2 separate regions of the Homo sapiens genome follow, and region 2 is linked to region 1. Evidence: fine-mapped expression QTL. A gene starts in region 1. The other region holds a variant in brackets. All regions are shown on one strand. Distances are between the middles of the regions.

Region 1 (5,380 bases):
GCAATTTTTTTTTGCTTTTGTTTTTTGTCTTTTGTTTTTTTTTTGAGATGGAGTCTTGCTCTGTCACCCAGTCTGGAGTGCGGTGGCGTGATCTCGACTCACCACAACCTCCACTCGACTCACCACAACCTCCACCTCCTGGGTTCAAGCAATTCTCCTGCCACAGCCTCCCAAGTAGCTGGGACTACAGGCATGTGCCACCATGCCTGGCTAATTTTTGTAGTATTTAGAAGAGACAGGGTTTCACCATGTTGGCCAGGCTGGTCTCGAATTCCTGACTTCATGATCCATCTGCCTCGGCCTCCCAAAGTGCTGGGATTATAGGCGGGAGCCACTGTGCCTGGCCAGGGGCAATTGTTTTAAAGGAATTTTGTTCCTGACTGGCTGCCTTTCTGTTCCTAGAATGTGTGATACAAATAGCAATGTATAGCCAATCAATAGCTTATGTTATTTTAATGTAAATAATTGGTAAACAACTCAGAAACTCCTTCTTTTCCTTTAAAATTCACTTGTGGCCAGGCACAGTGCCTGTAATCCCAGCACTTTTGGAAACCAAGGCAGGTGGGAAGATTGCTTGAGCCCAGGAGTTCAAGACAAGTCTGGGCAACATAGTGAGGCCCCCAGTTCTACCAAAAAAAAAAAAAAAATTTAGCCATGGGTGATGGCACCTGTCTGTAGTCCCAGCTACTCGGGAGGCTGAGACAGGAGGATAGCTTCAGCCCAGGAGGTCAAGGTTGCAGCAAGCCATGATCATGCACTCCAGCCTGGGCAACAGAACACACACACACACACACAAGAATCTACTTGTAACTGCTACTAAGTGTATATTCAGAGCAACTTGAATATGTGCTCCCAAGTTGCAATCTCAAACTTAGACCAAATAAACTCTATACTTACATTAAGTTTGTCTCCGTTTTTTCCTTTAGGTTAACAATAATAAAAGTAAATCATTCTCTTTATAGAAAACTCAGCAGCATTTGAAGGAGAAAAAAAAAACACCAACTGCCCATAAAATTAAAAACCGAGAAATAACCACTCATAATACTTGGTATTTTCTTACTTTTTCTTTTTCTTTTTCTTTTCTTTTTTTTTTTTTTTTTGAGACAGGGTCTCACTCTGTCATCCAGATGGGAGGCAGCGGTGCGTTTTCGGCTCACTGCAATCTGTGTCTCCTGGGTTCAAGCGATTCTCCCGCCTCAGCCTCCCGAGTAGCTGGGACTACAGGCGCACGTTATCACTCCTGGCTAATTTTTGTATTTTTAGTAGAGATGGAGTTTCGCCATGTTGGCCAGGCTGGTCTTGAACTCCTGGCCTAAAGTGATCCACCCGCCTTGGGCTCCCAAAGTGCTGGGATTACAGGCGTGAGCCACCGCACCAGGCCTTTTCCATTCTTTTGTCCACAGTTTTGCAGTATTTTAAATTGTACTAGGGGGGAAAATCCCTATTTTAAAAGAATTCTACAGCTAATATTTTCATAAAGCAAAGTGAATTGCTTTATGAAAACAAAGCACTTCTATTCACTTTTGATAATTGAATAGCTGGTCACCTTTCATTTACTTGTCACATATCGGCATTTCTGTAAGCTGGATTTTTGAAAGCAGCCCAGTCTGAAGCAGGGATGTAATAAAAGGTTTTGGAATTAACCAAACTTGAATTTGAATTCTCATTATCCCTTTATTAGCTAAATGACACTAAACAAATTGTTAACTTTTCTGTACTTCAGTATAGAATTTTGAGTTGTTCGGAAGAAGAGCCAAGACCCTTACCTACCTACCTATCTGTCTATGTATCTATCCATCTATCCATCCCTGGTATACAGTAGGTGATCACTGAGGGCGGCATGACCTTATATCCTGTGTTCACTCACCCTCCACCCCACCACCACTCCTAGTCTTTAACACCACCCACAGGAAAACAGAGGATTTCACTAAGCACTATAGAGAACGTGTCCTTTTCTGGCTGGGCACGGTGGCTCATGCCTGTAATCCCAGCAATTTAGGAGGCCAAGGCAGGTGGATCACTTGAGGTCAGGAGTTCAAGAACAGCCTGGCCAACATGGTGAAACCCCGTCTCTACTAAAAATAAAGTCAGCCAGGTGTGGTGGCATGCACCTGTAATCCCAGCTACTTGAGAGGCTGAGGCAGGAGAATTGCTTGAACCTGGGAGGCAGAGGTTGCAGTGAACCGAGATTGCGTCACTGCACTCCAGCCTTTTTTTTTTTGAGACTCCATCTCAAAAAAAAAAAGAAAGAAAGAAAGAAAAAGAAAGTGTCCTTTTCTGTTTTGTGCACCACAAGAGTTTTCTCCCCAGGAGTGCAAATAGGATGCCAAAAATGGGGATAAAGGAAAAGATTAATAAGGTGGGCGGGCCAGCACTAGATGCCTCCACCCCGCCAACCCGCCCGCCTCTCTGCCCCACCCCAACCAGGTGTCAGCCCTAGTCATTCAGGAGATTATTGCAGAAGTTTCCAAACTGAAGCAAGCTGTGCCCAGGTCCCTGTAACAGCAGGTGGCTTTCTGACATCAGCAGAGACTGGTGCTTTTTCCCAGGTACAAAGGACCTCCAGACCAGAGCCAGCCAGCAGCAAAAAGAGCATGGAGCTGAGGAGTACAGCAGCCCCCAGAGCTGAGGGCTACAGCAACGTGGGCTTCCAGGTGAGCAGAGCTTTCCTCTTATGTTAAAGGCCTTCAGTGGAAAAGCTGCCCTTTCCTTAGCCCCTTGGCAAGTTTCTTACCTAAGCAGGGAGATTATCAGGACAATACGATTTTTAACGGCACACTTTAAGCCCATTATTTTTTCTTCTTGGGCTCTTCTGGGTTGACAAACCTGAAAAGTCTCTTTTAATCGATGTGTTGTGATCCCTATGGTCACTTAGAAACAAGACAGCCTTCTTCTCTTGCCTTTTTTCCCTTCTGGCTCACAGCAGGGGTCCATTATTTATCTTCAGGCACTTTTCCAAAGAACTGGTGAGAAGGGAAAAATGGGGGAATTTAGATCCTGGCTGGGGTAGTGTCTCAGGGTTCCTTTTACTCAAGCCAAGTCCTGGAGCCCCTGTCAGATGGCCCCGGTACCTGCCCCAGAGCAGCTGGATTACGCAAATCAGTCTCACTTCATCAACCAAAACTCACTGAGTGATTAATGCTGCTCAGCCCGAGGCTGGGTGCCCGCAGAGACATAGAAGGAGACCTGTCAGAAACACCAGGCTATTTTGACTGGGTCTGGGATGGGGATTTCCAGGGCTGTTTTTAGGTGTGCTTCCTTTCCTTAGCTGACACTCAGCATGGGCGCTCTGGAGAAGATGGGAAGCCTGCACCGGCAAGTGTCAACAATCCCTTGGACTTTACGGTCTGCTAGATGGGCAAAACAAAACTTTGAGGTGCTAGCCAAGAAAGGAAAGAGGGAGGTAAAAGGGCTTTGACAGGAGTTCAGACTCCAGCACCCACAAATTCCTGTAACTTCCCAGAGCCCAAGTTTGATCATCTGTCCCATGGTCACAGTGATGCCCATCTCCATGAGTAGGCATCGGGTTACCACTTATAGGTCACAAGTGTAGGAGAGGAAACAACTTCATCTACCCTCTTAGGTTGAGTGCCTGAGGCCTGCAAATTAAACCAACATAAAACAGATTAGCAGGAGAAAAGGCACGCAAATTTTATTCATATTTAAAATCTCACATGTGGCTGGCAGTGGTGCCTCATGCCTGTAATCCTAGCACTTTGGGAGGCTGAGGCGGGCTGATCATTTGAGGTCAGGAATTTGAGACCAGCCTGGCCAACATAGTGAAACCCCATCTCTACTAAAAATACAAAAATCAGCCGGGCATGGTGGTACATGCCTGTAGTCCCAGCTACTCGGGAGGCCGAGGCAGGAGAATCACTTGAATCTGGGAGGCAGAGGCTGCAGTGAGCCAAGATCGTGCCTCTGTACTCCAGCCTGGTTGACAGAGGGAGACTCAGTCTCAAAAAAATAATAATAATAAAATAAAATCTCACATGTATGAGAGCCTCACATAAAAGAAACGGAAAAACCTAATAGACTCAGGAGCTTATATACCATTAAAACAAAGCACGGCAAATAGTGAAATGACTAGACAAAGGAAAAGAGGGTTATGCTTTTAGGGACAATAAAGTGGGGGTGGGAGGTGGAAATAATGGAAGATAAGGGTTAATTTATCGAGGTTTGTTCATGCAGATTTATCTCAGCGGCATCTCTGTCTTTGGTGATAAGGGTTGCTCTCTTCCTTGTATGAGCAAGCGGGACACCTGTGCAAGGGAAATATCAATAAATGTGCTGCTTTTAGGAAGATGGGGGATGGGGGAGGGCAGAGAGCTCTTTCTGTGTCTGCTTTCTTTTTCATAGCCTTCAGTTCAAAATATTCTTGTGCCAAAATGTGGGCATTTGGAGGGTGGCACATCCTGATCTCTTCTCTAAGGGCTAAGTGAGGGGGAAAAGCATAAAGCATGGGCCCATTCTGATTCCAGAGAATGGAAAGGATGGAATTGGATAGAGTCAGAGGAAGTATGGCAGCAAGAAAATATATCTGCAATAGAGAAGGTCCATGTCACAGCAACTGGCTGCTCCCAGGGAGGAGGGCACACAACGGTGGTGATCCCTCACTGTCTTCTAGCAAAACTGCTGTTTTGTGGGGGAAACATCCCCCTACACCTGCCCCAATAAAAAGAAGGAAAAATGAAAGGAAGCTTCCTCCTAGTTCTGTAAAATTTCCTGTCATCCTTACTCATTGGATTGATTGAAATTTGAATTTCTACATTTCAAAATCAAAATAGTGAAGACAATTTGTCTTTCAAGAGAATCAGAGGCCTCATAACTCCTGCCAAGTTAATAAGTATGAGTCTTACCTTGTTTGACATTCAGCTCTCCTGCTACATTATCTTCTTTAAGGAAAATTAATTGATTGTAAAATATGTGCTACTTCACTCGCATTATTAAATATGCATTAACATGCCACCAGGACTTCCAAATAAGTTAGGATGCTTACTTATTCACCTTGTCCTAGTCTGTGAATTGTGCTAGAAATTCATTTTTCTTCTTCAAATATTAAGAGTGCCCTTGGTAGACCAAAGTTCTAATTTTACTAAGTAGAACTACTTTCACAGCTTGAAATGCTGATATGGGTTCCCAAAAGGCCTGTGCCTGTAAGACCTGGTGCAGGTGCAATGGTTATGCATATCTATGGATTACCTGGACAGGCTCTCATCTGGACTGTTCCTCAAAGAAGGGAGCACCAATTGCTGTTTTCATGGAGCTAGTACTCCAGTGGGAAAGGTTAAACAGGAGCACAAAGTCAGTGATATGGGTTATAAGAGAGAAATGATCTCACCTCCAAGAAAGGATTTCACAGCTAGAGCACACTTCATAC
Region 2 (5,380 bases), 28 kb before region 1:
CAGATAGACCAATGGAACAGAATATAGAGCCCAGAAATGAGACAACACATCTACAACCATCTAATTTTCGACAAAGTCAACAAAAACAAGCACTGGGGAAAGGACTCCCTATTCAGTAAATGGTGCTAGAATAACTGGCTAGCCATGTGCGGACTATTGAAACTGGACCTCTTCCTTACACTACATACAAAAATTAACTCAAGATGAATTAAAGGCTTAAATGTGAAACTAAGAACTATAAAAACCCTGGAAGACAACCTAGACAATACCATTATGGACATAGGAACAGGCAAAAATTACATGATGAAAATGCCCAAAGCAATTGCAACAAAAGCAAAAATTGACAAACGAGATCTAATTAAACTAAAGAGCTTCTCCACAGCAAAATAAACCATCAACAGAGTAAAAAGACAACCCACAGAATGGGAGAAACATTTCGCAAACTATGCATCTGACAAAGGTCTATTATCCAGCATCTATAAGGCACTTAAATTTTACAAGAAGACAAACAACCCCATTAAACAGTGGGCAAAGGACATGAACAGACACTTTTCAAAAGAAACATATATGTGGCCAACATGCATGTGAAAAAAAGCTCAACATCACTGACCATTAGAGAAATGCAAATCAAAACCACGATGGATACCATCTCACACCAGTCAGAGTGGCTATTATTAAAAACACAAAAAGTAACAGGGGTTGGTGAAGTTGTAGAGAAAAAGGAATGCTTATACACTGTTGGTGGGTGTGTAAATTAGTTCAGCCATTGTGGAAAACAGCGTGGCAATTCCTCAAAGATCTAAAAAGAGAACTACCATTTGATGCAGCAATCCCATTTCTGGGTATATACCCAAAGAAATATAATCCTTCTATTATAAAGACACATGCACACATATGTTCATTGCAGCACTGTTAACAACAGCAAAGACATGGACTCAACCTCAATGCTCATGAATAGTAGATTGGATTAAAAAAATACAATATCTATACACCATAGCATACTATGCATCCATAAAAAAGAATGACATCATATCCTTTGCAGGAACATGGATGGAGCTGGAGGCCATTATCCTTAGCAAACTAATGCAGGAACAGAAAACCAAATACTACATGTTCTCACTTATAAGTGGGGACTAAATGATGAGAACATATGGACATAAAGAGGGGAACAACAGACACCGGGGCTTACTGGAGGGTGGAGGGCTGGAGGAAGGAGAGGATCAGGAAAAATAACAAATGGATAATAGGTTTAATACTTGGGTGATGAAATAATCTGTACAACAAACCGCTGTGACACAAGTTTACCTATATAACAAACCTGCACATTACCCCTGAACTTAAAAGTTAAAAAAAAAAGAACCAAAAAATCACATGAGCCCTCAAAGTACCCCCACCCCTCCATTCCACGCTTGACCCCAGCAGTAGCATGGTGCGGAGCGCGTCTCTGGGCACTGAGGGAGGGAGTAAACAGCAGTTGTAAGGCATTGAACTCAGTGCTGTTCTGTTAGAGCAGAAAGGAAAACTAAACCAAACTCAGCTAACACCCACCTATTGGGGGAGCATTCAAACCAGCCCTAGCCAGAGGGGAATCGCCTATTCCAGCTGTCTGAACTTGAGTTCCCACAAACCTCACCACTGAGGGCTACAGTGCTCTGGGACTCTAAAAAACCTTAAAGACAGTCTAGGCCGTAAGGGCTGCAAATCTTAGGCAAAAAAAAAAAAAAAAAAAAAGTAAATGTGATCATGCCATGCCCTACAGAGTCCATCTTCATCTGACTGCATCTTCTTTTTTTTTTTTTTTGAGACAGAGTTTTGCTCTGTCGCCCAGGCTGGAGTGCAGTGGCATGATCTTTGCTCTCTGCAACCTCCGCCCCGCTCCGGGTTCAAGCAATTCTCCTTCCTCAGCCTCTTGAGTAGCTGGGATTATAGGTGCCCAGCACCATGCCCGGCTAATTTTTGTATTTTTAGTAGAGACAGGGTTTCATCATGTTGGCCAGGCTGGTCTCAAACTCCTGACCTCAAGTGATCCACCTGCCTCGGCCTCTCAAAATGCTAGGATAACACATGTGAGCCACCACGCCTGGCATGACTTCATCTTCTACCCCCTCTCCCCAGTTCCTCCACCCTGACCAGCCTGCAGTTCTTCTGACATGACTTCATGTCCTAGGGCTGAACTGGGCCCAGAGACAGTGGACTTGGTGGGGGGGCAGGGGTGTGGCATGTGACATACTGAGACACCAGCTGGGGTGCCCCTCCTCTAACTCCAGGCTGCACAGCCCTCCGCTGCATAAGACACTCCTTCCTTCCTCTTGAGGAGAGAAGGAAGAGTGGGGAGGACTTTGTCTTGCATCTTGGATGCCAACTCAGCCACAGCAGGATAGGGCACTGGGCAGAGTTGTGAGGCCCCCATTCCAGGCCCCAGCTCCCAGATGACATTTCTAGACACACCCTGAGTCAGAAGTGAACCTGCCACCTTGAAGGAAAGGACCCAGTCCGGCCAGCATTCAGCATCTGCTAAATGAAGAGCGCTTGGGACCTGAACAACCAGCAGCGATACCCAGGTACTGTATCAGTGTGGGGGAAAAGAAGAGAGATCAGACTGTTACTGTGTCTATGTAGTAAAAGAAAGACATAAGAAACTCCATTTTGATCATATTAAGAAAAATTGTTCTGCTTTGAGATGCTGTTAACCTGTAACTTTAGCCCCAACCCTGTGCTCATAGAAACATGTGCTGTATTGAATCAAGGTTTAAGGGATTTAGGGCTGTGCAGGATGTGCTTTGTTAACAATATGTTTGCAGGCAGTATGCTTGGTAAAAGTCATCTCCATTCTCCGTCCTTTATTAACCAGGGACACGATGCACTGTGGAAAGCCACAGGGACCTCTGCCCAAGAAAGCCTGGGTATTGTCCAAGGTTTCCCCCCACTGAGACAGCCTGAGATATGGCCTCATGGGAAGAGAAAGACCTTACCATCCCCCAACCCGACACCCATAAAGGGTCTGTGCTGAGGCGGATTAGTAA[G/A]AGAGGAAGGCCTCTTTGCGGTTGAGATAAGAGGAAGGCCTCTGTTTCCCGCATGTCCCTGAGAATGGAATGTCTCCGTGTGAAGCCGACCATTCATTCTACTCTGAGATGGAGAAAACCGCCCTATGGCTGGAGGCGAGATATGCTGGCAGTGATACTGCTCTGTTACTCTTTGCTACACTGAGATGTTTGGGTAAAGAGAAACATAAATCTAGCCTACGTGCACATCCGGGCACAGTACCTTCCCTTGAACTTATTTATGATGCAGATTACTTGCTCATATGTTTTCCTGCTGACCTTCTCCCCATCATCACTCTGTTCTCCTGCCACACTCCCCTTGCCGAGATAGTAAAAAATAGAAATCAATAAATACTGAGGGAACTCAGAGACCAGCGCCGGTGCAGGTCCTCGCATGCTGAGTGTGCGGGTCCCCTGGGCCCACTGTTCTTTCTCTATGCTTTGTCTCTGTGTCTTATTTCTTTTCTCAGTCTCTCGTCTCCACCTGACGAGAAACACCCACAGGTGTGGAGGGGCAGGACCCCTTCAATCAAGGGCCTAGGGTGAGCCTCTGAAACTTGCTAGCTTCAGATACCAGCACAGCCACAAATGGGCAAAGCACCAGGCAGGCTTTTGGGGTCACATATTTCAGGACCTGGCTTGTGGATATCTCTGGACCTGCCCTGGGCCAGAGGGGAGCCCATTGCCCTGAAGGGTGAGTCCCAGGCCAGGCAGCATTCACCACCAGCTGACTTAAGAGACTTTGGGCCTTAAGAGAATATTGGCGGTAGTATGGCAGTACTTCCTGTGGAGTACTCCCCGTGGCCTGCGGTGGTGGTGGCTATGAAGTGAGGCTCCTCTGCCTTTGGAAAAGGGAGGGAAGAGTGGGAAGCACTGTGTCTTATGGTTTGAGTGCCAGCTCAGCCACAGTGCAGGTAGACTTCTAAGGTTTTCATTCTACTCCCTGAGGCCCAGACAGCACCTCTGGACCCACCAAAGGCCTGGGGGAGCTTGCTGACCTGAAGGGAAGGACACAGGCCTGACTAGCCTTGTCACCTGTTGACTGTAGAGCCCCAGGGCCTTGACAGAACATAGGCAGTAGCCAGGAAGTGGTTACAGAAGGTCTTGGGTGAGACTCAGGGCTGTGCTGGCTTCAGGGCTGACCCAGCACAGTCACAGTGGTGGTGGCCACAGAGGTGCTTGTGTCGCTCCACCCCCAGCTTTAGGTGGCTCAGAACAGAGAGAGAGATTCTGTTTGTTTGGGAGAAAGTAAGGGAAGAGAACAAGAGTCTCTGCTTGGTAATTCAAAGAATTCTCCTAGATCTTGTCCAAGACCATCAAGGAAGTACCTCTACAAGTCTGCAAGAACCACAGTGTTGCTGAGCTTGGGGTGTCCCCCAAAGCAGATATAGCTTAGATTACAACACTCTAGACCTTTCAAATATCTGGAAACCCTTCCCAAGAAGGACAGGTACTAACAAGCCCAGACAGTGAAGACTACAATAAACACTTAACTCTTCAATGCCCAGACACCAAAGAACATCTACTAGCATCAACACCATCCAGGAAAACAAGACTTCACCAAATGAACTAAATAAGCCAACATGGACCAATCCTGGAGAAACAGAGATATTTGGCCTTTCAGACAGAAAAATCAAAATAGCTGTGTTGAGGAAACTAAAAGAGATTCAAGATAACACAGAAGGGTCAGAACTCTATCAGACAAATTTAACACAGAGATTGAAATAGTTTAAAATAAGCAGAAATTCTGGAGCTGAAAAATGCAACTGGCATATTGAAGAATGCATCAGAATCTTAATAGCAGAATTGATCAAGCAGAAGAAAGAATTAGTGAGCTTGAAGCCAGGCTGTTTGAAAATACAGTCAGTTTACAGCCATACCACCCCGAATGCACCCAATCTTTTTTTTGTTTTTTTGTTTTGAGATGGAGTTTCACTCGTGTTGCCCAGGCTGGAGTGCAATGGCACGATCTTGGCTCACCACAACCTCTGCCTCCTGGGTTCAAGCAATTCTCTCACCTCAGCCTCCCAAGTAGCTGGGATTACAGGCATGTGCCACCACGCCTGGCTAATTTTGTATTTTTAGTAGAGACAGGGTTTCTCCATGTTGGTCAGGCTGGTCTCGAACTCCCAACCTCAGGTGATCCTCCCACCTCAGCCTCCCATAGTACTGGGATTACAGGTGTAAGCCACCACGCCCAGTCTTCGAGCACACCCAATCTTGTCTGAAAATATACAGAGACAGTAAAAGAATAAAAAACTGGATATCCATATGCAGAAGAATGAAACTAGAACCCTATCTCTCCCCATATACAAAAATAAATCAAAATGGATTAGACT

The links. PIP is the estimated chance that this variant, and not a neighbour inherited with it, causes the effect.
Region 2: its variant is fine-mapped to the expression of SLC28A3 in esophagus muscle (GTEx, PIP above 0.99). The same link has a PIP of 0.9 or more in gastroesophageal junction, lung and testis.

Annotation. Positions count from the first base shown.
Region 1 is chr9:84,337,848-84,343,227 of GRCh38, reverse strand. It overlaps SLC28A3 (solute carrier family 28 member 3), which reads left to right and starts at 2,470. Exons shown (of 18, transcript NM_001199633.2): 1 at 2,470-2,654. The coding sequence starts at 2,595.
Region 2 is chr9:84,365,633-84,371,012 of GRCh38, reverse strand. It overlaps a transcript of SLC28A3 not described here. Among named protein-coding and RNA genes, the nearest start is that of SLC28A3, 28 kb to the right of the region's middle. The variant G/A (reference allele first, on the strand shown) is at 3,024.